4 linked regions of the Homo sapiens genome follow. The protein of the gene in region 3 purifies or fractionates together with the protein of the main gene of each other region. This does not show direct contact. Each region holds a gene or a part of one and is shown on either strand. Other genes may lie near its edges.

Evidence for each region.
Region 1: the proteins of ACOT7 (region 3) and RRBP1 purify together in Homo sapiens (affinity purification with mass spectrometry; 2 studies listed by BioGRID, with this or other methods). This does not show direct contact.
Region 2: the proteins of ACOT7 (region 3) and PPA1 purify together in Homo sapiens (affinity purification with mass spectrometry; 2 studies listed by BioGRID, with this or other methods). This does not show direct contact.
Region 4: the proteins of ACOT7 (region 3) and SART3 purify together in Homo sapiens (affinity purification with mass spectrometry; 2 studies listed by BioGRID). This does not show direct contact.

What each region holds. Positions count from the first base shown.
Region 1 is NC_000020.11:17,616,227-17,623,246, forward strand, and holds part of RRBP1 (ribosome-binding protein 1), read right to left. Parts: intron 5,722-7,020; coding exon 5,629-5,721; intron 5,548-5,628; coding exon 5,464-5,547; intron 5,322-5,463; coding exon 5,232-5,321; intron 4,582-5,231; coding exon 4,489-4,581; intron 4,145-4,488; coding exon 4,073-4,144; intron 3,503-4,072; coding exon 3,407-3,502; intron 2,454-3,406; coding exon 2,370-2,453; intron 614-2,369; coding exon 506-613; intron 1-505. UniProt on the Homo sapiens protein: Acts as a ribosome receptor and mediates interaction between the ribosome and the endoplasmic reticulum membrane.
Region 2 is NC_000010.11:70,230,416-70,238,421, forward strand, and holds the start of PPA1 (inorganic pyrophosphatase), read right to left. Parts: upstream 3,015-8,006; 5' UTR 2,913-3,014; coding exon 2,849-2,912; intron 1-2,848.
Region 3 is NC_000001.11:6,278,750-6,285,769, forward strand, and holds part of ACOT7 (cytosolic acyl coenzyme A thioester hydrolase), read right to left. Parts: intron 2,538-7,020; coding exon 2,353-2,537; intron 1-2,352. UniProt on the Homo sapiens protein: Catalyzes the hydrolysis of acyl-CoAs into free fatty acids and coenzyme A (CoASH), regulating their respective intracellular levels.
Region 4 is NC_000012.12:108,537,174-108,544,193, reverse strand, and holds part of SART3 (spliceosome associated factor 3, U4/U6 recycling protein), read left to right. Parts: intron 1-1,041; coding exon 1,042-1,166; intron 1,167-1,349; exon of another isoform or gene 1,350-1,382; coding exon of another isoform or gene 1,383-1,424; intron 1,425-5,104; coding exon 5,105-5,260; intron 5,261-5,990; coding exon 5,991-6,129; intron 6,130-6,598; coding exon 6,599-6,706; intron 6,707-7,020. UniProt on the Homo sapiens protein: U6 snRNP-binding protein that functions as a recycling factor of the splicing machinery. Promotes the initial reassembly of U4 and U6 snRNPs following their ejection from the spliceosome during its maturation.

The sequences.
Region 1 (7,020 bases), on a different chromosome or scaffold from region 3:
CGAGACTCACAGGACAAGAACGATGCCTCCGAGCCCTGGCCCCATGACAACCCCCTTAACAGCCACACCATGGCCACCCCAGGGACAGGCCCTGCCTCTTGGTGAGGACTCTTGGTGGCTATTGCCGGGCTCAAAACTCTGGAGAGCGAATATCCTGCTAGCGATGTCCCAGCCGGGGTTGCAGTGGGAGACAGTCCCCTTCGATGGCTGCAGACCCTGCCCAGAGCTGCTCCTGAGCCCTGTAGGTGCAGACCCCAAATCACGGACTCCCTCTTCGAGTCCCACCTCCCCCCAACTCCTCCAGCCTCTCCACCTGGCCACCTTTCTGTTCCATGCTCTGTGGCTTTCTCCGAACCTGGATGATCCAAATGGGGCAAAGCAGGGTGGGGTGGGGAAGCAGCGGAGGCTGGAGCAGCCAGTGCGGGGTTTAGTCCGAACGGAGGCAGCAGGGCCTGCACTCTTCTGGGATTAGTGATGTGTCTGGGGACCAGCTCACCGCCCTAACCTGAACGGGGTCCTGCTCGGCTGGGGGCGCCTCTGGGGAGGAAGCTGGGGCCCCAGCTATGTCACCATCCTCTACGTGGCTCTTCATTTCACTCAACTGCTGCCTGACCTGGAACAGGAAGGGGTGTGTTTGCAAATGCACAGCCAGTCGCACACCCACCATGCTCACTCCTGCAGGGACCCCCTCGGAGGACCGTAGCTGCTCTCAACAGCCAAAGTCCCTTCAGGGGACCTGGCTTGGTAACTGTGACCTATGTCTGGCCACCCCCGCCGCCAACCTGAGCCAAACCAAGGCCACCAAGCCTCTGGGCTAATGAGACCCAATGTGCTCTGCTCCAAGCCCAACCGGAGGGGAGCCCTCCCTGGGAGTGAGGTGACCCCTGATGGGCATGGCCCACAGAGCAAAGGAATCCGAATGGAACCGGGGGGTGGCCGCCACACTGTCTACACCCCCCGTTTCTCCTTCAAGGATGCAGTCCACTGCTCAGAGCCCTTTCCGGGGTCTAGAAAAGATTATGAGATAACATTCTTGCCTAACAAGGTCCCCCACCCCTACGCTCCATCACTGGGGTTAGGTGGCATATCTGGCTGCACCCAAACCACTGGGCCTGCAATTTGAAGGGCAGGTGTCACTCGAGAGGCTCAGGTAGAGGTTCCAATTGGAGACCCAGGTGGGGCCCTTGGCATAAGCTCCCCAGGGAACATGGGCGGTCTCTGACCCTGCGCTGAGGGGCCACCCCAGGTACGTGGGAACCCCAGACATTCTTCCCTCCCTCTGAACAGCCCCTCCCAATGCAAATAACGAACTGCACAGCTGGAAGACAACAGAAACTCCAGGGGGTTTTCTCTGCACATCCCCGGCCTGGGCCATGCCCCCGGGGCCTGTCACCCAGACTTCGCTCAGCCAAGGCTTCAGTGAGTGGCCCCTAGACACAGGAGGAGACCTGGCCTAGGCAGCACTGCCCTCTGGTGTTCTGGTCCGGGTAAGACCTGAATGACCAAGGGGGACCGAGGGTGTTGGGAGCGTGTGCCGGACTCACTGGCTGCTGCAGGGGGAATGCCAGCCCATTTTTATTTAAAATTTCCCAATTTCTCCCTGTTGACAACTAATTCAAGATTTAAAAAAACACCGCAGATCAAACAGAACATGTCTGCGGCCTCACAGGGTGCTGCTCACAACACCAGCCTTGGGGCGGTACCAGATCCGGTGAGGCTGGGTGGAGCCTGCCAAGGAGCTGGGACTTGGCATCAGACACCTGAGCTGAACACCAGGAGGGACTCAAGAGGCCACCTGCACAGGCAGAGCTCCAGTGGTCTGCCAAGGGGGCTGCTCTCTGCACCCGGCAGCTGGTATGGGGCCGGGCGTGGAGCAGGTCTTCCCTGCATGCCTGTGGCTTTGACTGAATTGATCTGAGCTGTCACTGAGGTGAGAAAACCCACAGAAGGCACGGGACTTGCTGAGAGCCCCAGGGCGATGGGTGGCCAGGCCAGGAGGAACCCCCAGGCTTCCTGGTCTTGTGATGCCAGGGACTGCAATATCCCTGACGCCCCCAGGTGACTACAATGGGCTCACAGGGAATGCAGACGCCCAGAGCTCTCACTACCTTGAACAGGGGACCAGGTAGCCAGGGGACGGGAGATGGAGTGGGAGCACCCTGGTCCCAACAGCCACAGGCCCAGCTCAGAGTTCTGGGCAAATGTGCAGGAAGGCCCCCAGAAGCCGGCCCCATGCTGCTCAACGGGTGACACTGTCCCTTCCCTAGGCTTTATCTTTGAGTGGACACAAACGCATGACTGGCAAATGCATCTCACACACGCAACGCCCCAGGTCACACTCCTGGCATGGGGACATGGAGGCCACCTACCAGGGCAAGCTCATCGCTCTGTTTCTGGGCTTCGCTCTTGGCGGCATCGAGCTGAGATTGAGATTCTAGGAGAAGTTGCCTCAGCTTGGGGAGAAAACAGAGGCGGGTGATGGGAAAAAAGGAGAGAAAAGGAGAAAACCAGTCCCCGTGAGTTAGCGCCGAAACATAAAACCTAACACATCCACTTAACCAAAACCCTGAGGAGGGTCACAGCATCGGGCCGGCACAGGGCTCGCCAGGCTTCCTACAGCTACGATTTCTTTTTTGAGGACTTAGGAAGAATGGTGTTCACTGCGTACCTCTTTCAGGCCTTCACAAATGTTTACTGATTATCTCTGGCAAAAAAGGGCCAAAAGTTGGAGATGATTTTTTTTTTCAGAGATGGTCTCAATCTGTCATCCACGCTGGTCTTGAACTCTTGGGCTCAGGCAATCCTCCTGCATCAGCCTCCTAAGCAGCTGGGAACGGAGGTGCCCACCAGTGTGCCTGGCTTTTTTTTTTTTTTTTGGTAGAGATGCGGTCTTGCTATGTTGCCCAGGCCGGTCTCAAATTTCTGGCCTCGAGCAATCCACCTCAGCCTTTCAAAGTGCTGGGATTACAGGCATGAGCCGCTGTGCCTGGCCCAAAAGTTTGAGATTAAACCAGAATTGGGATACTGGGCTTGTGCTTCTGCTTCTGAAGAGCAGAAAAAGTGTCAGATCTAAATCCACTCCCCACCAGATATGACATCAGCAAGCCAGGCAGAGAATCCCCTTGCGGAGGGATAACCTAGAACGTCAAACGCCTCCCTCGGGGCAGGGCTGCCTGGCTCTGCCCCTGTCCTGGCTGGGAGGCTGCCTTTTTGAAACCTGCCCTGAGAGACACCTCAGGCCTGACAGCCCAACGAGGGGCCTGTGAGGCTTCGGGCAAACGCCTGAGGACTCGGACTTCAAGGCTTATGTCACCGAGAGCTGCTCCCACAGGGCTGAGGAGAAGCAGCTCAGGGAGGACCGCAGATCTGCTGGGCAGGGGCTGCACTCCTTGGGGGGCAGACTCACCCCTGCCACCTCCTTGGCGTAGTTCTGGCACTCGGCGCTGGCGGCCGCCATGTGCTTTTCCAGCTCTGCCTCCAAATGCGACGTGTGCTCCCTCACCTGGACAGATGCACAGACACGCACACGCATGCGCCAGCAGCCTCTGCTCAAAGGGCACTCACCTCAGGGAGCAGGCTGGCCCTGGGATAGGTGAGGCCTCTCGGGAGATCCCTGAGGCCCACCAGCTACCAAGCAAACGAGAAACTAGTCCGCGGCAAGAGAACCCCTTACGGAAAGTGGCAGGCTGCACCCGGGCACTCCTGGGGACTGACATGCTCTTAGATTTACTTGCAAAAGCAGGTACCAAGGGTACCTTCTCCAGGGCTCCCTGTGGCGTCTGAAGGGGGCAGTGGGGCCACCTTGACTGTGAAGGCCGTGGCAGAAGCCCTGTTCACCAGGGCTGGGCAGGTCTGCACAGGGCCCGTGGCTGGGTCTCAGGGTCCTCTGAGGTAGTCAATGTCTCTCATTAAGGAAAAACAGGATGGACAAGATCCCTTGGCTTGAGAGAGAATGCCTCTCTTAAGGCACACGGTCCATGAGGAAGAAATCAGTGAAGTGTCCTCTGCATTAACGTCACTTTCAAAGAGGCTCCCGGGACAAGAGAAAGAGTTCTCTGAGCAGAGCACATACCTGGTCCGAACTTTCAAGTTCTCCTTTTAGCTTCTCTACAATCTCTTCGAGATGCTTCACTGTGACCCGGGACTACAAAGCAAGGGGAAGGCTCCGTCAGACACGAGCACCTGGGGGTGTCTCCTTCCGAGGCCATGCTAGGACCCGAGCGGGACTGACCCAACTTAGGAAGCCCCGGGGGTGCCCACTCCGCCCAGCTGGGACGGTCACCCTGGCGCCATCTGGCAGTGTCTTCCTAGGCGGGGGCCTCCTGGAGGACGGACTGAGCTGTCATCCCGCAACTGTGCTTCATAGGGTGTCGTGGAAAAGCCCCACCGAGACACACGAGTCTCACAGGTGACAGAGACAATCCTGTCAACTCTCCCCTGGGCTTCATGTGCTCCACGGCGCCGGGAGGCAGGCAGGGCTGCATATACCTTCTGGAGCTCCTCCTCTGCGGCGCCCACCTTGGCCCTCCACACCTGCTCCTCCTCCTCCACGCTCTTCTGCAGGTCTCTGAGCATGCCCTCCTGGGGGGAAACCGAGGTGAGGCAGGGCCCTCTCCCTCCCGAGACCCGCACCACACAACCGCATCTTCCTGTCCCTGCAGCCCTGGTGACCTGCCGTGCTCCGCCTGCTGACTTCATGAGCGCCAGCGTTAGGTGGGGAGGGAAGGCAACCACTGTCCTGGGAGGGAGGTCCTCTGGCCAGTGGGCCAGTGTGGCTGCAGTGCCAGGCAAGGAAATGAGGTCTGTGACCTGCACAGGACCACTAGGATGCTTGTTACTGCCGGGGTTTGCCACCAGCACCAAGTGTGTCAATGGCCCAGGACGAGGAGCACAGGATGGGCTGGCCAGAGAGTGGCAGGGCTAGACCTGGCATTGCTCTTAGTCACAAACGGGGTTCAACCTGGCAGTCACCAGCTGCTTACCCCGTCCTTCCCCTTCCCCAGCTTAGAGACCGGCCCCGAACCTTCAACTTGGCCTTCTCTTCAGCTTAGAAACAATGACGACCTCAGAGGGTGCCATCCATTTACCATGCAGCCGAAGAACGGGGCCCAGAGTCACAAGGCCAGTGGGCTTTTCCAAAACACCAGGCCACCTCCTGCCCCATAGGCCCCGAAGCTCTCCTTCCCTGCAGCCTCCCAGGGATGCCCAGCTGACAGGTTCCCAATGCTCACCGTCTCCGCCAGGATGCTGCGGTACTGGTCACACTCGGCCTGCAGTGTGCTCTGCGTCTCCTCGGCCTCCCTCAACTTGGAGGCCAGGTCCTGAGAGAGGGAAGAACAGGTGTTTAGTTAGCCACACACAAAGGTTCTTCTCTTGGCTTCCCGTTGAAATGACTTGGGGCAGCCCCTCTTCCTGGGGACAGGGGAGCCCAACAGAGGAGCCTTGCCAGGCAGCCACACTTACCGAGGAGGGCTCCGCGGGAGCTGGCGGGTGCTTCAGCAGCGTGGGGCCTTTCTCTTTGAGATCCTGCAGCCACTCGGTGTAATTCTGCAATGAAACACATTCGGTGAGACCCGGGGACATTCCCTGAGAACTGTGAGGTCCCCGGGAACCACCCTCCCCTCCTACCTGTTGTGCCAAGACAGAGAGTTCTGGGAGCAGAGCCAGCAGGGCCTCCATGGTCTGCGCCTCAATCAGACAGAGCTGCTTCTCCGATTCCTCCTGGGGGGTGGGTGGGGAAGAGCGGAAGGTGTTCAGCTGTGGAGGTGTGGGGCACCTCCCCAGGTCTTTACTGATATGCCCGGGTCTCTGCCCCAGAAAGGGCACATCCTCAGCTCTTCAGGGAAGCGACAAGAATCAAAGGAGAAGATGAGGCTCCATGGGGCTGACTGTAAGCAGAGGGGTTACCCAGCCTGTATCTGGTCCATTTCAAACAGACTAAGCTCTGATGAAAGGAGCATACTGGGTCAGGCCAAGATGGCAGGTGCCAGCTCCCGGGACATCTCCCAGCAGGGACAGTCTCCACCAGCTCTCACTTCCCGAGCTCTCTGGGCATGTGTGCATGTGTGGGGGAATTTGGGGGGTCCGCAGTTGATGTGTGAGAGCCAGGGCAGGAAGAAGGGATGGGAGGACACTCATGGCCCCCAATGTTTTGGAATCTAGAGCTGTGATGGGGATGGGGGTGAAGGCAGGGAAGCAGTGCGTCTGCTGGCGGCACCACGGTTAGGGGCTAGTGGCAGCCAGGAAGGGGCAACCCAGAGAGGCTCATCTCCAGCCACCCTGGAGAGGGTGGATCAGCATTCCCCCTCTGCAGAGGGAGAAGCCCACTCAGAGGAGACAGGGACTTTGCACCCTGTGCCATGCTGGGTCGGACACCCCCTCAGTCCTCAACGAAGAGCCAGCGGCCCCCATTCAAAGCACAACAAAGATAAGGAAACAAAAGGAAACAAAGGGGGCCCAAGGGAATCATGAAGCAAAGCCTAGGACCACAGTGTCCCCCGGGAGAGAGCTGGGCTCTCCCACACCCCGAGGGGAAGGCTGCTGGGGTAACAGCCTGTGTCTGGCCCTGCCACCACCTGGACAGGCCTGGCCTAAGACCCAGGGAGGCCCCAGGAACTCCACCTGGATCAGAGCTGATGGAGTGTTAACTCCCCCAAGCAGAGTCCTGGAATGTGCATGAAGGATGCTGACCACCGGACACCCAGCCTGAGCGCAGCGCCCTCTGGCCTGACGCACACCTGAGAAGCGGGCCCTTCCTGGCTGGCCAAGTTATCCACAGGTAGGGCCCGTGACCCATGTGGACCCTTGACCTCACGACCACCACTGAGGCCTCTAGTTGTGAGTCAAGGCAAGCTGGAGACCCAGAGGCCACCTTCTATCTGGATGTGTGACCACAATCAAGTCAGGTGACATCTCTGGTCACAGCTTCATTTACCACATGGTAGCCAGACAGTCTCTGAGGTCACTGGGGGCTACAAGGCCAAGATTCTAGGAGTCTAACTATAGCTCTCACAGGGTGGC
Region 2 (8,006 bases), on a different chromosome or scaffold from region 3:
AAAAAGTTATTACTATAATTAATTGTATTGCTAAATGCCCACAGTACACATTTTTTTTTTCTGAGATAAGGTCCCTTACTCTGTCACCCAGGATGGTGTGCAATGGTGTGATCTTGGCTCACTGCCACTTCTGTTTCCCTCTTGAAGGCTCAAGTGATCCTCCAGCCTCAGCCTCCTGAGCCGCTGGAACTACAGGCATGAGCCACTACGTCTGGCTAATTTTTGTGTCTTTTGTAGGGAGGTGGTGTTGCCATGTTCCCCAGGCTGGTCTCCAACTCCTGAGCTCAAAGCAGTCTGCCCACCTCAGCCTCCCAAAGGGCTGGAATTACAGGGGTGAGCCACCGCACCCTGCACCCGACCAGTACACATTTTTAAACCAAGATATTATTCTTACACTAGAAAAACTGTTTGTATACTTCACTTCTCCTGACTGTACTCCCAGGCTAGGCTGGGTTTACATCCTATGCACTCTGTAGGCATCTAATAAGTACTAATCTCTATAGTGAGAGCAGAGACTACTGAGGACACAAAAGGCGATTAAATTGTTTTGGACTGATCTTACATCAGTTAAGTTTACAGAACCATTATGAAGTACTTGGGAGGAAGGGAGGGGACCACTTTACTAAACAATGTTGCTAAAAGTGGTGTTCCCAGAGACAGCCAGCCATCTTAGATTATGACTTTCTTTAAGGATAATCAAGTTGCAACAAACATCTTCACAAATAATTTCTATTATATTCTAGATATATATTACTAATATATTCTAGAGGCCTAACTATAGCCAAAAAGTAATTTTAAAACTTCTTCAGTATTCTTTAGGAAACCTACTGTCCACATCGCATCCCTTCAAGTTTAAAAATCAAAGTGGAGGCCAGGCACGGTGGCTCACGCCTGTAATCCCAGCACTTTGGAAGGCCAAAGCAGGTGGATCACTGGAGGTAAGGAGTTCAAGACCAGCCTGGCCAACATGGTGAAACCCCGTCTCTACTAAAAATACAAAAATTAGTCAGGCATGGTGGCAAGTGCCTGTAATCCCAGCTACTTGGGAGGCTGAGGCAGGAGAATCACTTGAACCCGGGAGGCTGAAGTTGCAATGAGCCAAGATCATGCCACTGCACTCCAGCCTGGGCAACAGAGCGAGACTTTGTTTCAAAAAACAAACAATAAAACATAAAAGTCCCTTTAGGGCCAATTGTGACTTTGCAGTCTGTCCAGCCCTTTATCAGTTTTAAAGAAATTGACAAATGTAATATTATAAAGCTTAAAAAAGTTTATTTCTATTAAGGAAGGATAAAGCACTTAAAATTGGATAACTATGTAGTGGGTTCTAATTATTAGTATTTCTTAAGTTCCAGAGAGTTCCACTTGATAAAAACAGTTACTTCAGCTAGTGCCAAATTCTAGGAGTAGCTTTGGTCTCCCATAACGGCCACCAAATATTAATTGCAAATAAATAACCTAAGTAAAAGCAGTGTGTTTGTTCTGCATATATAGCTTGAAGATCCACCCCTCACCTTCAAACCAGACAGTCACCTCTGTAAGCCTTTCCTACAGAGAAATTCTGGAGCCAACACTATTTCCAGAAAAACAGTCCCATGAATTATTAGTCAAAAGTTACTGGACTGTCCTTGCTGCTTAATTGCAAAATTAAATAAAATGGAGAGTGGGGGGTAGTTCTCACCCTTCCTGGATTTTACCTGATAGTTAACCTTTGGCTAGATGTGTAAGCTTTACAGTTCGCTTTCCTTTTCCTCCCGCACCAGGCTACTTTTTGTTCCTTCAATGCCTATTCATTCGTCTCCTCTACTCCCCGCTTCCCCTTCCTTCATACACCAACTCAGAGTTCGAGGCACCTGCCCATTTCCTTCCAAATAAAACTGTAAAGAGGTTACAATAGAAGCGCCTGTGGTGACACATTTACGAACGCCTCCGTTATCGCCCATAATCTACTCCTAGTAGCTGGGGGTGGGGGGAGTAAGAGGATAAAGAAAAACCCCAAGTAGCTTTCCTCCACCTACAAGGCCAAAAAAACGTGGTGCCCTAAGGAGCGTGGAGGGCGCCAGCATGCAGCCTCCCGGTTTCCCCGTGCAGCCCTAGGTGCAGGACCCGGGGTAGGTACCCCCTAGACGCCGAATCCTGCAAAGGTAAAAACTTGGCACTTTCTCAGTCTTGTTTCCAGACTGACGTCATCTGTTTGATTTGAGGGAAACAGCTTTCTGTTTCATAAGGAGCATTCCCAGCATCGGCGCTGAGGGAAAACAGGCGGCGCAGAGGCAGGAGCACGACCGGGCCGCGGAGGACCGGTCCAGCGCCTTCACAGACGGCTCCCGATCCGGGCCTCAGTTTTCCCGTCTGTAAAACGAGGGGGTGGACTTGGCTCCGCTCAGCGCCGATAATCTGAGCTACGGCGGCGGAATTAAGGTCTTTAGGAAGTCACTGCCCCCCCCGGCCCGGAGTCGCCTTTTCTCCAAACTGAGCAATCCTCTTACGGGAATTATGTTACTTCCAAGCACCTTTCTAGGGTGGGTCGGTGATTTCCTTTTCCCAACAGACCCTGTCAGAGCCAGACACCTGCAAAACTAGCTGGGCCCAGGTTCGGGTACCCCGAGGCGTGACAAAGGGACCATCTCCGTTCAGCGGGGAGGGATGGCCGGAGGCGACCCTCGCCGCCCCGACCGGCGGCGGCAAGTATGCAATGTGAGGCCGGCCAGGCCCCACAACGCGCCCGAGGAGACGGGCCCGCGTCGGAGACCTGGGGCCGAGCGCGGGCCGCACCCTCCCGGGGAGGCAAGGCCCGGGAATGAATGGGCGGACGGGCGCGGAGGGGCCACGGGCCGCAGACACTCACTGAGGAAGACTCGGTACTCCAGGGAGAAGGGCGCGGCGCGCTCCTCGGTGCTGAAGCCGCTCATAGTGCCGGAGTCCTGCCGCCGCCGCTGCCACAGAGCCACCAGCCCGCACGCGGCGCCGACTGACAAGGAGAGAGCCCCACGCCTGCGCACTGCGAGCACTGGACCGGCGGGCGGGGCGGGGAGCGCCTTTAACGCGGCTCTGCTAGTGTTCCCACCCCCGCCGGGCCAACCCCGTGCGCAGGCGCACTCCGCCAGGCCCGGGTGTCCGCACTCCCCAGCCCCGCCCCTCGGGCCCAGCCTCCGCGATGGCAGCTAGGGCTCAGAGGCTGGGCCACGTGGCTGCCGCCGGCGCTGGTTCTGTTCCTTCGGCTTTGGGCTCTGACCCGGGAGGGCAAATGCGCAGGCTCTAAGCTTGGACTAGCTAGGAGTTGACCGCCGACCACGCACACAGGGAACTCACCTTTGATTCTCACACACTCCTCCCCGCAGTCCTATTCCTTATCTCAAAAGGCGTTGATAAGTCACCTGCTTCCCCAGACAGGCTCTGCTTGCGGTCTTAAAGGTGAGCATTTTTCTGATCCGTCGTAACAAAGTTGAGCCATATTACTGACACCCCTAGTGGCTACTAGTAAGGTACTCGCTTCTCCACTTTCTATAATCTCTCTCACTCCGTTGCTTATCTGGGAAGTGAAGATAATAATATAACTATTTCATGAGTTACTGGGATGATTACCCGAGTTAATACACGTCAAATGCCTGAAGCAGAGCCTGTATCTTTGTAAACAATCTGGAAGTTGTTACTGTCACCCTCCCCAGTGGGGGAGGATTTACGCCCCCGCGCCCCCCGCCCCCTCCATCCCCCCTGCCACCCTACTTAACCCACCTGGGTCTCCAGGGGCTTCAGATGGAAGCACTGGGAAGGTCCAGGCGTGAGCTAGAGTCCCGTGAAGGAGTGTTCTCAGGGACAGGCTCTTCTGATCTTGATTTCCTGTTTATATTCCATCATATCAGGCCAGACCCCAAAAACTAAAGTCTGATTGAGGCAGTGGGAAAATATTTGCATCACTTACCTCCCCAGGAATACATGTAAAAGAAAAAAAGTATATCCACAATCCTAAATATAAATTAGCAAATTATTATTCACATTTCAAAGAATGCCTGGTTTTATTTATTTATTTATTTTAATTTCATGGCCAGGATTTCTTTAAATAACTTTTTCTAGAACATTAAAGATAATGTGCCTTAATGACATTTTGAATTAAACCCTTTTTTCCAAACAATGTCTATTGTAAAAAATGAATATTAAATGAAAACCTAGTAAGATCTCCAGTTAGTTATGGTGTCGCTCCCTTTGTCTCCATCCAACTCCCAAACCTCACTGACACCCATTAATTTTCAGAAGGCTGTGATTCACTGATTTTTTGAACATTTCACCACACTGTTTTACTGCTGTTAAAACAGAAGGGCAGGAAAAAAAATTAGCGAAGCAATAGTTTAGTCAATAATTAGGGTCAAGGCCAGGCGCGGTGACTTACGCCTTCAATCCCAGCACTTTGGGAGGCCGAGGTGGGCGGATTACCCGACGTCAGGAGTTGGAAACCAGCCTGGCCAACACAGTGAAACCCTGTCCCTAGTAAAAATACAAAAATTAGCTGGGCGTGGTTGCACGCGCCTGTAATCCCAGCTACTCGGGAGACTGAGGCAGGAGAACACTTGATCCCGAGAGGCGGAGGTTGCGGTGAGTTGAGATCACGCCAGTGCATTCCAGCCTGGGTGACAGAGCGAGACTCTGTTTCAGAAAAAAAAGTAGGATCAAGTTCAAAGAATATTTTAAGGGGATGCTCTTTTGATTGAACTGCTCTATCACTTTTCTGCCTTTGAGCAGATGGAACCAATTTTCTTGGAAAAACCCAGACTCTCATCTGTGACTGACTTAAGAAGACAGCAGTGATGCAATAATAATGTTCTACATACACTTTCCCTTTGCCTCCTGCCAGCTCAGAGCAAGATAATAAAGTCTCACTGACCTCCAGACTTGCACACTGGCTCTTGTTTCATCGAATGTATTCAGAGAGCCAGTCATTATCAGGTCTGGTAAAACACCCAGCCCTGGTGAATTGTAACTTTCCTTTGCAGGCAAGTGTAGTGAGCCCATAGGCCCAAAAGGACCTTGGTCTACCATGTCTCCCTAGGGCCTAGCACAGTACACAGCCTAGAGTAGATGTTTAGTGAATCTTTGCTGGACGGATAGGTAGAGGAATTAATGTAAAGGTGGAAAATACCTTCTTAAGTACATTAGTTTGACAAAGAAGGAGTCCATCTCTTCTCAAATATTATCTTTCTCACTCAGTGACCAAATCTAGTGGCACTTTTCAGTCCATATCCTGTCCCCTTTGCTGTGGGTGACCCTGTTGGGTGTCTCTAATTTCCTTCTTTGGCTTGCGACTACATTCTCTTCTTTTTTTTTTTTTTCTTTTTTGAGACAGAGTCTCACTCTGTCACCCAGGCTGGAGTACAGTGGTGTGATTTCGGCTCACTGCAACCTCCACCTCCCAGGTTCAAGTGATTCTTGTACCTCAGCCTCCTGAGTAGCTGGGATCACAGGCATGCACCACCATGCCTGGCTAATTTTAGTATTTTTAGTAGAGATGTGTTTTCATCATGTTGGCCAGGCTAGCCTCGAACTCCTGGCCTCAAATGATCTGCCCACCTCAGCCTCCCAGAGTGTTGGGATTACAGGCGTGAGACACGGTGCCAGGCCACGACTACATTCTCTTCTCGTGTTCTTCCTACTTCTTTTTTTTTTTTTTTTGAGATGGGGTCTCGCTCTGTCGCCCAGGCTGGAGTGCGGTGGTGCGATCTCGGCTCACTGCAACCTCCGCCTCTCGGGTTCAAGCAATTCTCCCGCCTCAGCCTCCAGAGTAGCTGGGATTACAGGCGCCTGCCACCACGCCCAGCTAATTTTTTGTACCTTTAGTAGAGACCGGGTTTCACCATGTTGGCCAAACTGGTCTCGAAGCCCTGACCTCGTGATCTGCCTGCCTCGGCCTCCCAAAGTGCTGGGATTACAGGCATGAGCCACCACGCCCGGCCCATTCCTACTTCTTTGCTACTCATTTCTCATTCTCCTTCTCAGCCTTCATTTCATCATCTTAATCATCATTGTCTTTCTTATTTCTCATGTTCTCTCTCTCTCTCTAGAGCAATACTCTTTGTCTAGATTATCTCATGTATATCTCTGGCGTCAGCTACCACCTAGAGGTCCTATAACATGAAAACTTTCAAATCTATAACTAACTCTTATTTAACACTTACTGTGGTCATGCTCTGTGATAGGTGGGTAGGGATGTAGCCCTACTAGGCCTTATAGTCAGAACTTATAGTCTAGAAGAAAGACAGACTTCAACAAATAATTATAATAAATTTGGGTGAGTAGAATGATATAGGAAGTACAGGGCATTACATTATGGGAGCAGAAAACCTCTTCAAGGAAGTGACCTGTAACCTGCAATCTGAATGATGACATGGAATTAATAAGGCAAAGGGGACAAGGCAAAAGCCAGAAAACGGTTAGGTGAGACTAGGCCGGGCGCGGTGGCTCATGCCTGTAATCCCAACACTTTGGGAGGCCAAGGCCGGCGGATCACGAGCTCAGGAGTTCGAGACCAGCCTGACCAACATGGTGAAACCCGTCTCTATTTAAAAATATACAAAAATAAGCTGGATGTGGTGGCACGCACCTGTAATCCCAGCTACTCAGGAGGCTGAGGCAGGAGAATCTCTTGAACCCAGAAGGCAGAGGTTGCAGTGAGCTGAGATCACACCACTGCACTCCAGCCTGGCAACAAAGCAAGACTCCGTCTCAAAAAAAAAAAAAAAAAAAAAAGAAAGCGGTGAGACTAGAGAAATAGTCAGGGCCAAAAGCTAGAAAGCCTTGGAAGGCACGATATGAGGATTGAACTTTCTCCTAAGAGCAATGGGAAACTTAAGAAGGGTTTTTAATGGGAAAATAACATGATCAGAATTGCATTAAGAAAAGGTACTATCAGCAGCTTAGAACTTGGATTGAGGTTTAGTAAGACTAGAGGCAGGGAGACCAATGCAGTCCACTGCAGGGCCCCAGATGAAAGGTGATGGTGGTTTCCTGAACTTGGGCGGCAAAAGAGAAGGCTGATTACAGAGCTGTGTTCAAGGTAGAATCAATGGAATTATTGATTGAATAGTGTGGAAGAGGAGAGAGGTGGAGATCTGAGGATGAGTCCCAGGTTTCTGGCTACAAGAACTGGTTGAGTTGAATGGTATGTCATTTACTGAGAGAGAGTGGGTGAGATGGAGGGTATTAATACCAAACACTCCTAGCTCCCTGCCCAATGGCCATATTACCTTCTCTTTTCTAACAGAATCCTGATTTTGTTCAAGAGACTGGATGTGGTGGTTCATGCCTGTAATCCCAGCACTTTAGGAGGCTGAGGAGGACGGATCACCTGAGGTCAGGAGTTCAAGACTAACCTGGCCAACATGGTGAAACCCCGTCTCTACTAAAAATACAAAAATCAGCTGGGCGTGTTGGCACGTGTCTGTAATCCCAGCTACTCAGGAGGGTGAGACAGGAGAATCGCTTAAACCCAGGAGGCAGAGGTTGCAGTGAGCCAAGATCACGCCATTGCACTTCAGCCTGAGCAACAAGAGCAAAACCTCTGTCTCAAAAAATAAATTAAATAAAATAAAAAGAAGCCACTCTCCTGCGCACACCTTTGCCTCAGGGCAGCCAGCCCTTCCTTCATCTTCATGAAATGAAGTTTTTTTTGTTTGTTTGTTTTAGTATTTATTGATCATTCTTGGGTGTTTCTCAGAGAGGGGGATGTGGCAGGGTCATAGGATAATAGTGGAGAGAAGGACAGCCGATAAACACATGAACAAAGGTCTCTAGTTTTCCTAGGCAGAGGTCCCTGCGGCCTTCCGCAGTGTTTGTGTCCCTGGGTACTTGAGATTAGGGAGTGGTGATGACTCTTAACGAGCATGCTGCCTTCAAATATCTGTTTAACAAAGCACATCTAGCACCACCCTTAATCCATTTAACCCTGAGTTGACACAGCACACGTTTCAGAGAGCACAGGGTTGGGGGTAAGGTTATAGATTAACAGCATCCCAAGG
Region 3 (7,020 bases):
ACCGTGTGGTGGCCGGGGAGGCTGGAGTATCCCTACAGACACTACAGGGTCCCCCATCCAGGGAGCGCAGGCTTCACTGAGGGCCTGGTCAGCTGTGCTACAGACAGGGAGCGGACAGCAGACAGGGCGTGTCCTTGCGTCTGTCCATGCTGCCCGCAGAGGGAAGACAGAACTGGGAAAGTTTGTCCAGGAGGCAGGAAGAGGTAGGGGGCGGGGAAGGAGAGAGCTTCGGAAATGTGCCTGGGTCAGGTGGGGGATTCAGCATCAGGACAGACAGCAGCCACGCTGAAAAGCGTCATGGGAGGGGCGTCGGGTCCATGGGGAGAGACCAGAGCGGGCCCAGGTGGGAGTGGAGCCCATACTTCATGGCCGAGAAAAGCAGGCAAGTTTGGAGAAGGCGTGTCCAAGGTGAAAGGAGAACCAGACACAGGGCTGAAGGTCAAGGACAGAGGAGGCTGGAGCCTCATAGCAGGGTCAGGGGCTGAGGAACGACTGCGGACCAGCCCAGGCGACGTGGAGGGAGGACACCATCCTGCCAAGGGCCGATGGGTGGCACGGTGGGCCAGGGCAAGGCGGGTAGGCTTACAAGTAAATGGGGAGGGGTGGGGGCAGATGAGGGAGGAAGGAGCAGGCAGCAGAGCCAGCCCTGATGGGGCAGGAGGGTGGCAGCCTAGGGTACTTTGCCACAGAAGAGGCTGTGGGGCTGAAGGCATGGAGCAGTCCTCGCACCAGAAGGGGAGCATGCCTCGTAAGCCCCAAGTCAAAGAGGGGCCTGGTCACGAGAGTCATGCAAGGGTGGGTCACAGGCATTGTGTTAGTGCCGTGCTGGGGGCACCCACCACTCACTTTCCTTCCTTTCAGCCTGGCCGAGTCCTCCTCATCCATCAAGTCCAGGTTCACCATCAGCTCCTCTACTCAGCCCACCCGACCTGGGAGAGGCCGGCACCCAACTCCAGCGAAGAGCTGGCCTGGAGTTGGCAGCGGAGGGTACTCGCTGGGCCTGACAGCTCACACACCACACCTGGCGCTACCACCACGGGCCCTGGTGAGGCATGAGCTCCTCCACTCCAGGAAGGGGCAGGGCTGGGAGAGGGGCTTGGAGGGGCCTCAGCCTCGACTGGGAAACAAAGCAGCTGGGGCGACTCGGCGGCCCTCCTCAGCCATGTGGGGAAGCGACAGGCCGTGCTCCAGGCTCTGAGAGGAATGGGTTTTCAGTGCATGTTCGCCCCAGAGATTTCAGTGCACGCTCCTCTCCGGGAGGCTGAGCAGCAAATGCTTGCGGATCTGCGTGGGGAGCAGACGCCGCGGGGGCAGGGGCCTCGAGAACCTCTGGAATCAGGGGTCAGCCTCGCAGGGCCGTGGTGCCTGCCTGGCCACTTCCATGAGAACGCCAGCTCCCAAGAGGCCTGCGGGCACCCGCCTGCTCCCAGCTGCTCTGTTCCCGCATCCTCGCTCCCCGGAGGGGCAGGAAGCTCCTACAGCTCTGCTTTCCTCTTGCTCCCCTCAGTGACAGACACAAGAGCTGGTTCAAAGAGAAATCAGGACCACCCCAAAGGCTGCAGAGCCCCTGGGGTCAGCCAGGATGGGGAACCTCTGTTCTTATGACAGAGACAGGGAAGCTGCCTCTTTGGGCCGCGCGAACCCTGTCGATGTCTGTGACCCTACAGAGTCCATGCCAGGCGGAGAACCACCAGCTCTCAAACGTGGCAGAGCTCAGGGGATGTGGACACCTGGGGGCAGCAGCCCCTGTGAACGAGTGCGTGTGGCCTGCACACGCCCACCCCACCTGCCCTGCATGAGGAGGAGAAAGGCCAAGGGGCTGGGACCCTCAGCCCAGAGCCCACCAGCCTGGCTTGGTCTCATCAGGCAGGACCTGCAGGCCAGGACCACCTGGAGGGAGCCCACCCCTCCAGCTTCCCAGCAGGCCCTTCAGCAGAGGATGGGGGACCCAGGGCACGGTCCTCATCCCCCTCCAGCATTCTTACACAATGCCAGGGAACACCAAGGCGCCACACTCAGAGGCGACCTGGACGCCCAGGCAGCAGCCATGCTAAGGCGCTCTTAAAGGGGTCTGTCTCTCTTGTCCTGTCTGCCCAGCCCCACCCCACGGGCCCTGGGAGTACAGCCCAAAGGCCTACCCGCTGGTTATGAAGCGTTCCTTCTCAAGGCCTCACCGGATCAGCCCCGCAGCCCGAGGTCACCGGTCACGGCAGTGGCCAGGCCCAGCCCTACTCTGACCCCTACTGACAGGACAGGACTCATGCAGGCACAGATTCCCCCTGGAGGCCCAAACACAGGGACCCTAGGGCTGCCTGGCAGGGAGGGGCCGCCGTTCCAAGGATGCGCACTCACCACCAGCTGGGGCACAGGCAGCGACCTGCCTTCCTGGCTCAGCGACACGTAGGTGAAGAAGGCACTGGCGGCCCGGTAGCGCTTCTGAGAGCTGTCCACAACAGGGTCGGCGTCCACCAACACCTCGATCTCCATGGACTTATTGCTCGTGAAGGTCATGCGTCCCGAGATGGTGATGACGCAGCCTGTGGAGAAGGGAGGGCGGGGGTCAGGGCGGCCTCCACCCCACGGCTGGGCGGGGGACACTGGCGTTTCTGTGGTCAGCAGGCAGACACTTGGTTAGGGGAAGCAGTGGCTTGGCTGACTACCAGATGTTCAAATAACAGAATATTAGAATGTGTCGTTAGTTGCCCATGAATGTTTATCTTTCTAGTGAGCAGGTTTATCTACGCTAAAATTCAGCACTGAAGGATTTTGGTGGCCATGAGTTCAAGCCCCCGCCCAGGCGGGCTCTCTCCTGGCCGGGAGTGGCAGCACCTGCTGAAAGGCTTCAGAGCCACTGTGCCCCCACGGGGGAGGCCGCAGACTGCCTTCCAGGAGCTGTGGGTGTCGGCTGGCTCTGCCCTTCCTTAGGTCAGGGCCAAATCTGCAAACTGCACTGTCCATTCATTGGCCTTGCTGGTGCCCACCGGAGCCACAGCTGCCCCACTACACTGCTCCAAGCACCAAGACAGAACCTTGTATCACCTTCCACAGCCATTCCCACCCTCAGGGGCTCCAGTGACACAGGGCAGCTGCCCGTGCCCCTTGGTGGGATTGAATCTTATGTGACTGCATGCCAAGCCTCCCTTCTGGCCCCACTGGTCTCGCCCACGGGACCAAAGCTTCCTCCTCTGGGCTGCTGGATGCCACACCCCTTGGCCAGAGTCCTCCATGCTCAAAGCACCAGCCCCATTTCTCTGTGAATCATGACAAAGTCCAAAGTCACCAGTTCCCATACATTGTTCCCATGTCCCTCTCTCCCCCTCAACCCTAACCAACCTCTCTGTACGCCCCACGCTCCCCAGGGCACGACAGTCCATCCTGGCAGAAGCTTCCTGACCCAGAGCTGCTCTTCTGCCCCCACCACCCTCCCCGGCCTGGGCTCCATCCTCCTACCTGGCCTCAACATAATCCCTTAATCTCAGGGAGCTCAGCTCTTCCCTATAGGCAGGCATGAGACACCCTGCCTGGGGGATAGCTACGGGATGGAAGGACTCAAGCCAAGAGCTGACCTGGGGCCCCGGGAAGGTGTCACCATCGATGTCACTGGCCACCAGGCTGCAGAAACCCCCGGGGACTTCCGGGGCAAGTGCTGCCCTGCGGTCAGAATGCCCTCCCAGGCGGCCCAGCGTGGCCTCTATTCTGGGCCAGGCTCAAGGATATCCCTGCCCGACTCTGGCTGCTGGGACTTGCTCCCCAGGAAATATATCTGGCTTCGGGGACTTTTTAATGTGGCCTCTGGAACCCCCAGTGTCCTAGCTGCACCGAGACCAGCCTCACAAGGCAGGTTTAGAGACCCAGAGTGAGAAAGCGGCCAGGTGGTGGCTGTTGGAGGGCGGTTAGCAGGCCAGAGGCAAGAGCGGTTATTCCATGTTAAAAAGTATCAGAACGATCCATGCTACATTCAACTTCATACTTACAGGGAGCACTTCGTGCCAGTGCTGGGAGAGGAGGAAGGAGCTGTGTGGTCAGCGCCAGCAGGCATTACGTGAGCTGTAAGGTACAGAGTCCCATGCAAAGCGCCCGCAGTCACAAGACGCACCCCGGGAGGAGGGCAGGCCATGGGTCAGGCCCCAGCTAAGGAGCTAGAAGTTTCAACAGGTCAGACCTGAGGGTCTCCCAGCATCTCTGCCTCCTTCCTCACAATGCCCAGCCCACATCCCTCACCAACAATTGTGTATAACACTTGGGAGTCACAGGCCAAAAAGCAGGAACAAGCCCTTTCCATGAGCAGAAACCAACAAGAACTTCCCTGTGGCCACGGTGTCACACACGGGGGCCACCCATGAGCGTGGTGCCTGGAGGAGGGCAGGTTCCAGGGGTCTTTGAACACTGGCTCTTAGTTTTGAGGAGCAACAGAAAACGTGTTTTTGTTTTTGAGATGGAGTCTCGCTCTATTGCCCAGGCTGGAGGGCAGTGGTGCCATCATGGCTCACTGCAACCTCTGTCTCCCAGGTTTAAGCGACTGTCACACCTGTCACTTAAATAGCTGGGATTACAGGCGTGCACCACCATGCACGGCTGATTTTTGTATCTTTTGTAGAGATGAGGTTTTGTCTTGTTGACCAGGCTGGTCTAGAACTCCTGGCCTCAAGTGATCCAACTGCCTCGGCCTCCCAAATTGCTGGGATTATAATTAGGTGTGAGCCACTCCGCCCAGGCTCCAAAAACATGCTCTTGGTGTTGCCCATGAAGGCCCACCTTGGCCACTGCTGCCACGGCCAGATCCTGGCTGCTCATGGCTTAATTGCTGTGTTAGAAATCTGAAGAAACTCCTAACAGCAATCAACAATGACTTTAAACAACTAAGTAGGTTGATTATAAAAGCATTAGACGTAACAACAAAAAGAAGAGAATGCTGTCTGGGAGAGCCTCTTGTGGTCCATAATACAATTAACACTTCATAAATGTCAGGAAAATTTTCAATTACAACCAAAATCTGAGAATTTTCACCCTTCAGAGAGCAACATCATTATTCTAAACAAGACACAGGCTATAAGGTTGGCTAGCAGGACAAAGTGAAATACTTTAAAACTGGAAACCTAACTGGATATAGTGGCACACGCCTGTGGTCCCAGCTACTCGGGAGGCTCAGGCGGGAGCATCGTTTGAGCCCAGGAGGTCGAGGTTGCAGTCAGCTGAGATCGCACCACTGCACTCTAGCCTGGGTGACAGAGCAAGACCCTGTCTCAGAAAAAAAGAAAAAAACTGGAAATCTGATGTGGTCACTGGCTGGGACTTAATTTGAAACCTAGGGTTGACAGACGAATCACAAGTCCCAGTCACCAAGAGAGAGCCCAGTTTCCAGGGGCCCTGGTTTAGGGTATCCCATCTCCTAGACCCTGGGCTCAGAAGGCACATCCCACACATGACACCAAGGTCTCACAGGCAGCCTCTGGGAAGGGACTGTCCCAGGGGACCTCGGGGGGACCAGCTCCCACCCCCAGGGCTCTGTTCCTGCTCTAGCCCTTCCTGAAGAATTCCAGCTACAGACCGGGCGCAGTGGCTCATACCTGTAATCCCAGCACTCTGGGAGGCCGAGGCGGGCTCATCACTTGAGGTCAGGAATTTGAGACCAGCCTGACCAACATGGTGAAACCCTGTCTCTATTAAAAATACAAAATTAGCCGGGCATGGTGGCACATGCCTGTAATCCCAGCTACTTGGGAGGCTGAGGCAACAGAATCGCCTGAACCCGGGAGGCGCAGGTTGCAGTGAGCTGAGATCATGCCATTGCACTCCAGCCTGGGCAACAAGAGCGAAACTCCATCTCAAAAAAAAAAAAAAAAAAAAAAAGAATTCCAGCATTCCAGCTACAGGCACTTTGTCAACCCCAGGATGGCGGCTGAGGCGCACACCAAATCCTCTCCGCCTCCTCCAGGTCACATAGAGGCCCCCCTGCAGCATCGAGGCCTCCCTGGGGACGGAGGTCCATCCAGGTGGGGTTGGGGTGATGAGCGACTGGCCTCAGCCTCTACAAGGGCCCCTAGCCTGCCCCCTGCTTTCCACACCCCACCAGAGTGGCCTTCTGTGAGCTCCCTGAAGCTCCTGGCCCCCGTGGTCTCTCCCTAGAAAAGCCCTCCTCTTACAGCTATCTGGTTCATCTTCTGAACCTCGGCTCAAGCATCCCTTCTCCAGAGAGCTGCCCAGGGCGGCTCAGCCCCCTCCACCACACCCCCTCTAGAACTGTCCTCCACTCCTGCAGAGCCAACGACCCCATTTGCATTGGCACACTTGTTGGCTTGTCTATTTCACTGTTGTCTGTCTGTCCCCATCTAGCCTGGAAGTCCCACGAGGGCAGGGCTGGGCCCAGGGGGCCCAAAGCAGGTATCCAGTTGACAGGCTGGACCCCTCTGGGGACCCACGAGGGCTGGGGTGTGGGTCACATGTGGACACCAGGTCACCACAGACTCAAGCTGGCCAGAGCCCCATTAGAGCCCCAGGTTTGCATCCTCCTGAAGTGGATGCTGAGCAGCCCAGAATCAGGAGTGCCCAGGAGCATGGCCAGCAGCCCCTTCCAAGCCCTGCTGGCCGGTACTTCCTTCCAGTCTCAACTTCAGTGCCACTCCTGGAAGCAGCCTGCCCTGGAGCCCCACACCTGTCCACCTCCCTTCCTCCCTGCAAAAGGGTGGAGAGCCTGGGGGCAGTCACGTGCTGGCCGTCACCTGCCCACGGGGCAGCACAGACTGATTCCGCCCTTCCTGCTAATTCCTCCATGGCGCAGCCATGTGCTGTCATTCCTCCCACTGGGTCAGAGCCTGGACCATCCAGGCTGCCGGCCAAATCATGACCATGCCCACAGGTCCCTCCACCAAATGTGGAGGCGGGTGAGGCTGGTCATGCATCAGAGAGCTGAAGACAGCGTGTCCAGGTGGCTCTCGGGAGCCCTGAACCTGACAGGAAAGGCAGAGGCAGGGCCCGACAAGCACTGCCTGCAGACCTGGCGTGTCACACGGAGGTCAGGAT
Region 4 (7,020 bases), on a different chromosome or scaffold from region 3:
CCAGGTGAGAGCTCTTTTCTCCTTTGAGACCTAGTTGGAAGGGCAGAGATAGGGTCTCTGAAAGGAATAGTGAATGACACCTGTATTTTTTGGGGAAACTTCATTGAACAAGAGTTCCATTATAATCATTTTCTCTTCACAAGTAACCTCTTCCATAACAGCAGGAATTTTACATGAGTTTAGATCATTCCTCTATGGGAGGGATTTGGTTCAGAAGTGCAGTTGATTGGAAGTACTCATAAGTGAGTTTCTTGGGGTTTGGTAAAGAGTTTCCTTATTTGGTAAATACATTTTGGCAATCTAAGCCTTTGAGTCTTTGGAGCTATGAGTGTGTGCGTGCTGGGAGGATTTTTCTGAGTATGGGAAGAGTTTGTCATGGCTGTTGTGTTTGTTCCCTAGACACGGGCATGTGTTGTACATACTCAGAACCTCTGGGCAACTTTACTGGAGCCCACATGTTATTTCTCTTCATGGTTTATTGGATTTAACAAGTTATAAAGTAGTCGTCTAATCAAATGGTTGGGTATCATGCAGAAAACACTAGAGCTGAGCCGGCTTGCAGATTTCACCTACCAGCGTGAAACAACCTAGCATAATGATTAGAGTGCGAACTTGAGCCAGACTGCTTGGGTTCACAGCCTTGCTCTACCATTAACTGTAGACGAGCAACTGAACCCTCTGCTTCAGTTTCCTCAACTGCAAAATGAGGATCACAATAGACTACCTTGTAGAGTGGGATGACTGAATGAGTTAGTGGATGTGAAGTGGTAGAACATAGGTAACACTGGGTAAGTGTTGTTAAATCGTTGCCACTAGTGTCATTGACTGATTAATTAGCTGGGAGGGTTGCCTGGGACATTGTTTTAAGACAGATTCTACAGACAGGTTTGGGCTCAGCAGAAATCAGAATTTGATCAGTAAGAGCTGCCATGCCACAGATGTGGGAGGGGCTAGTGGCACCTGAGTCTCATGGCTTAATCTGTGTTTGGGTTGATAAAGCCCAATGGCAAGACCCACGGGGCTGAATCCATCTTTCAATAGATATGGAGGCCACATTTGCAGAGTATGAAGAATGGTCAGAAGACCCAATACCAGAGTCAGTAATTCAGAACTATAACAAAGCACTACAGCAGCTGGAGAAATATAAACCCTATGAAGAAGCACTGGTAAGTGTTGGCTTCTTTTATAGTAAACGTCTCTCTACAAACCTTTCCCTGATGGATAGTTGCGAGTTAAACAGTATCTTTAAAATGTTTTATTCTGAAATATATAGAGTGTATAAATGTATACGTACAGTTTACATACTAATAATAAAGTGAACATCCATGTACCTACCACCCAGGTTAAGAAATAGAACATTGCCAGTACCTTAGAAGTCTCCTATGTGCCCCTCTCCGATTGCCTCCTCCTCCCTCTCCCGAGAGGTAATCACTTTCCTGACTTTTGTGATGATAATTCCCTTGCTTTTCTTTATAGTTTTACAAGCTATGAAAGTATCCTTAATTAATATATTGTTTAATTTTGCTTGCTTTTGAACTTTTATATATTGGAATCATGCTGTATATTTTATTTTCATTGAACATGCTTTTGGGTTTTACTCATGTTGCTAAGTATAACTCCGGTGCATTTGTTTTCACTGCTGTAAAGTTGTCTGTGTACTGCGATGTATTTATCCATGTTGCTGGATAGTTGGGTCATTTCCAGGTTTTTGCTAGGAGAAGGAGCAGCGCCACTCTGAACATTCTTGTGTGTATCTCCTTGTACACATGAAAAAGAGTTTCTCTAGAATACGTACTTAGGAATGACTTTGCTGGATCATAGGGTGATGTTAAAGTGTTTTCCAGGTTATCAGTTTGCACTGCTGTGAGCAGTATCTGAGAGTTCTCGTTGCTTGTGCCAATCTTGGATATTGGTCATACTTAAATTTTACTTAATTTGATGAATTTGAAATTGTAGTTTTAATTTGTATTTTCTTGGTTACTAATGAAGTTGAGCATCTTTTCACGTGGATTGGCCATTCAAATTTTTGTGCGTGTTAAAGTGTTCAGGCTGGGCACAGTGGCTTATGCCTATAATCCCAGCACTTTGGGAGGCCAAGGCGGGAGGATTGCTGGAGCCCAGGAGTTTGAGATCAGCCTGGCAGCGTAGCACAACCCTGTCTCTACCAAAAAAAAAAAAAAAAAAAAAAAAAAAAAGCCGGGCTTGGTGGCATGTGTCTGTAGTCCCAGCTTCTCCAGAGGCGAAGGTAGGAGGATTGTTTGAGCCCAGGAGGTCAAGGCTGCAGTGAGCTGTAATCATGCCACTGCATTGTCACCTAAGTGACAAAGCAAAACCCTATTTCTTAAAAAAAAGTCTGGGCCGGGCGGGGTGGCTCATGCCTGTAATCCCAGCACTTTCGGAGCCCAAGGCAGGTGAATCATGAGGTCAGGAGTTTGAGACCAGCCTGGCCAACATAGTGAAACCCCGTCTCTACTAAAAATACAAAAAATTAGCTGGGCATGGTGGCGGGCGCCTGTAATCCCAGCTGTTTGGGAGGCTGAGGCAGGGGAATCGCTTGAAGCCGGGAGGTGGAGGTTGCTGTGAGCCGAGATCGCACCACTGCACTCCATCCAGCCTGGGCAACAGTGTGAGACTCCGTCTCAAAAAAAAAAGTCTTTGACCCATTTCCCTTTTGATGTATCTTTTTTCTAATTGATTTGTGGGAGTGCTTTGTCTTAAGTCTTATTTTAGGCTGTATGTGTTGCAGATTTTCTCCCCAGTTGTTTGTCTTTTCACTTCTTTTTTTTTGAGACTGGAGTTTCGCTTTCACCCAGGCTGGAGTGAAGTGGCGTGATCTCGGCTCACTGCAACTTCCGCCCCGCCAGGTTCAAGCGATTCTCCTGCCTCAGCCTCCCAATTAGCTGGGATTATAGGCCCTTGTCACCAAGCCCCGCTAATTTTTGTATTTTTAGTAGAGACGGGGTTTCGCCATGTTGGCCAGGCTGGTCTCATACTCCTGACCTCAGGTGATTCACCTGCCTCAGCCTCCCAAAGGGCTGGGATTACAGGCGTGAGTCACTGCAACTGCCTTTTCACTTTTTTATTTTTTAACAGTGTCTTTTGATGAACAGTTCTTAGTGATCAATTAGATTAAAATTCTTTCCCTTTTGGTTGTGCTTTTGTTGTGCTTATTTAAAAAATATTCCCTACTTAGCTCTAATTTCTTCTAAAAGTTTTATAGTTTTCTGTTTCATATTTAGGCCCTCATCCACCTGGGATTGATTTTTGAGTGGTATGAGACTGCGTCTGGTTTCATTTTTCCATATGGAGAACCAGTTGTTCTAGTACTGAGTTTGATCATTCCTTCTTCCCCTCACTGATGTGCAGTGCCACATCTGTCATAGATTAGCTGTCCATTTATGTGTGGGTCTTTCTTCTGGATTTTCTGTTCTGTCCCACTGGTTTATGTTACACTGTTGTAATGATGAGAGTTATAATGTTTTGCTCTTGGATAGGGTGAGTCCCATCCACCTTTTTCCTCTTCAAGAGGATCTTGGCTTTTTTTTTTTTTTTGCCTTCAATGCTTCCATCGGATTTAGAATCAGCTTTTCTAGTTATATTTTTAAAATCTTTTTTTTTTTAATTGGAATTGCATTGAACCTGGAGATCAATTTGGGGAATAATTTACATCTTCCAATCTATGAACATATATAGGTTTCTGCTACTTATATCTTGTCTTTCTGTAAAGCTTTATAATAATATTATAAATTTGTCCAGTGTCTTCAACACTTGACCTTTAGAGTCCCCTGCAAGGGAGATTTGCTGGTAACAGATTTTCTGTGTTCAAAAAGGTCTTTGCTTCCCTTCTTGAAAATTATTTTCTTAGGCTATAGAATTCTAGACCGACAACAGCAAAAGAATTCTAGACGGACAATGTGTCCTCTCAGCAATTGATTGTATCTTTCTGTCTTCTGATGTCTGTTGTTGCTGTTGAGAAGTCAGCGGTTTGTATAAATCTTGCTTCTTCAGAGGTAGTCACTTTTTTGTCTGACTGCTTTTAAGATCTCATTGATTTGGTTTGCTGTCCTCTAATTTCACTGCAGTAGGTCCATGTGTGGACTGGCTTGAAGTTTTTTGGGCTTCTTGACTCTTTTTTTCTATCTTTCTTTGCCAACAATAGGATTGTGAAGGTCAGATTCTTAATATACGTCAAGCCAGCAAAAGGTTAATGTTTACTTAGCTTGCCACCCTCATTTAGATTTTGTCCTTAGTCCTTAGTATTTCTTGTTTCTTTGCCAGTTTGTTGATGACTTTTAAGAAGATATTATATTTAATTTAGCAGTTTTAGTTGTTTTGAATGGTACAGTGTGTCTGGGTAACTAATTCTTCCTCGTTACTGGAAATGGAGGCCCTGAAACATCCCCTTTCTACATATGGAGTCTGTGTGTTCTCTTACTCTCCTGCACTGCTTCATCCTTTCTTTTTCATGTGTAAATGATTTGCATGTACCTGTGCTTCCCAAAACTTCGATCATTCAATTATGTCATGGCCATCAGCAAAATGTGCCTGAAGAGAAAACATGTCGAATAAGATTTTTTTCTAAAAAGAATTTGATTGTATGTCTTTGGATCATTAAACATTCAGCACAGCTGCCTTCATCTTCTGCATTTATCTACATTCTTCCAGGAACTGATATTTGGAATAAGAAACCTGAAATAGCATCAGGCACCAAAATTTTCCAGTTTGGTTGTATTAACTCTACTCAGTAGCCCAAGAACATGACTTCTGGTTTGGAAGGGTGGTTGACAGTGGTCACTGGCAAAGGTGTTGCTCTTTCACTCAGTTCCTGATTGATGGGCTACTTAATTCCCTGTGGTCTAGGAATGGATTTAGAAAAGAGTTTATGGAGCCTTTGTAGCGACTGCCATGAACTGGCACTTTGGACCAGATGAGAAGACTCTTGTTTTGCTCAAGAAGTTGTAGAGGCCATAGTGGAGTGGTTCTGAGAGTGAGGATTTGGCGATTCATAGTTACTGTAGCCAGTTTTGCCAAAATTTATTTTATTTGCAGATGTGTTGTGCTTCCTGCCAGTAACTAAATTCAATACAATTTTCCTGTACTCCAGTTGCAGGCAGAGGCACCAAGGCTGGCAGAATATCAAGCATATATCGATTTTGAGATGAAAATTGGCGATCCTGCTCGCATTCAGTTGATCTTTGAGCGCGCCCTGGTCGAGAACTGCCTTGTCCCAGACTTATGGATCCGTTACAGTCAGTACCTAGTAAGATCACTGTTCTAATTTCATTTTATTTTTGCCAATTTAGAATCTACTTAAAATCAGTAAGAGTGCCAGGAGTTTGTTGCATACGGCCCTACTCTTGCTTTTCCTCCATCTGCTTTTTCTCCTCTTTGCCAACTCGTTTAGAAAGTTTTAGTGTTTCAAGTTATTTAAAAATGGTCACTAACTGTAAGTAAAATGAGCATATTGTCTGTGTTGAGGACTTATAACAACTTGATATTTTTCTTTTAACTTTTTATTATGGCAAAAATGTAAACATATAAAAGTAGACAGATCAGTAAAATGAAACTTCTGTACCCCTCACCCAGCTTCAACAATTAGTAACATTTATAGCTTTAGTTTACTTTGATCTGTAGTCTCACCTACTTGTCCCTTCTGTGTTACTTTGAAGCAAATCCAGAAATGATATTTCGTTGGTAAATATTTCAGTATGTGTATATAAAATATTTCAGTGTGTCTGTATAAAAGGATCCAAATGAGGTCTATCCAGTAGGGTTGGCTGACGTCTTTTAAGGCTGTTTTAACCTGTAAGTTGCTCCTCTCCTTCTCCTCCACTCCCCTTAGTGATTTTTTTGTTGTTGTTGAGGAAACCAGGTCACAAGAGATGTTTATAAGGACATTTCTTTCATCACTTGGTCGTGCTGGCAATGTCTTGTTGATGGTGAATGCTTAATAAAGTGTAATTTCCTAACTCTGGAATTCTTTATCATAGGATCGACAACTGAAAGTAAAGGATTTGGTTTTATCTGTACATAACCGCGCTATTAGAAACTGCCCCTGGACAGTTGCCTTATGGAGTCGGTACCTCTTGGCCATGGAGAGACATGGAGTTGATCATCAAGTAATTTCTGGTGCGGATGTTTTTGTGGGAGAACTTCTAAGCTATTTGTCCCAAGTGAAAAACAGAGAGCGGTGACAAAGTCATTACATCAGTGTTCCCTGGGGTTTTCTTTGGGTTATGGAGTGTAGTGACAAAAAGGGCTCTGAGTGAGAGATGAACTGGTTATATTTGTGGCTTCTTAGAGCTTTTTAACATGCTAATATTCATTGTATTTTCTAAGAAGTTGTAGTGTTTTCTCCAAACTTCCTTGATCTGGAACTTTTCTTGCAGGGCGTCTTGTGGAAGAAGTTTTTTCTAGAACACAGTCTGTAGAGTGCTGTAGCAACTTCTGTCTTCAACATTCCTGTCTAGCTCATTTCATTCTGTTGCATCTATTAGTCTTTAAAGTCATGTAGTGTTTTATAGTCAGTAGAATGTAGTGACTTTCTATTAGTTTCCATTTGAATTGGTAACAAATCCTGACTTTTCTCCAACTCCAGTAACCTTCGAGAAAGCTTTGAATGCCGGCTTCATCCAGGCCACTGATTATGTGGAGATTTGGCAGGCATACCTTGATTACCTGAGGAGAAGGGTTGATTTCAAACAAGGTATTTAAGCACATGTTTTTCACTTTAGAGCTGAACATGTTCTTAATACAACTTTTGGCGAGATGTCCCAGTTCCCCAGATACATTGTGATTGGGCAAATGATGTAGACTAGGTATTGGTGACTTTTTCCCCCAGAAATCTTAGCAATTTCTGTCTTTAACAAGTCATGATGTGGATTGTAAAGCAAGAGAGTAATCGTTTATACTGGCTCCTGCCAGCCTTTTTAGTCTTAGCTCTCATTTCTCCTTTCAGGTCTTTTTATTTATCCTAAATACTTCTTGAAATAAGTCTGCTGTGTTTTAGAAAAATCTTTG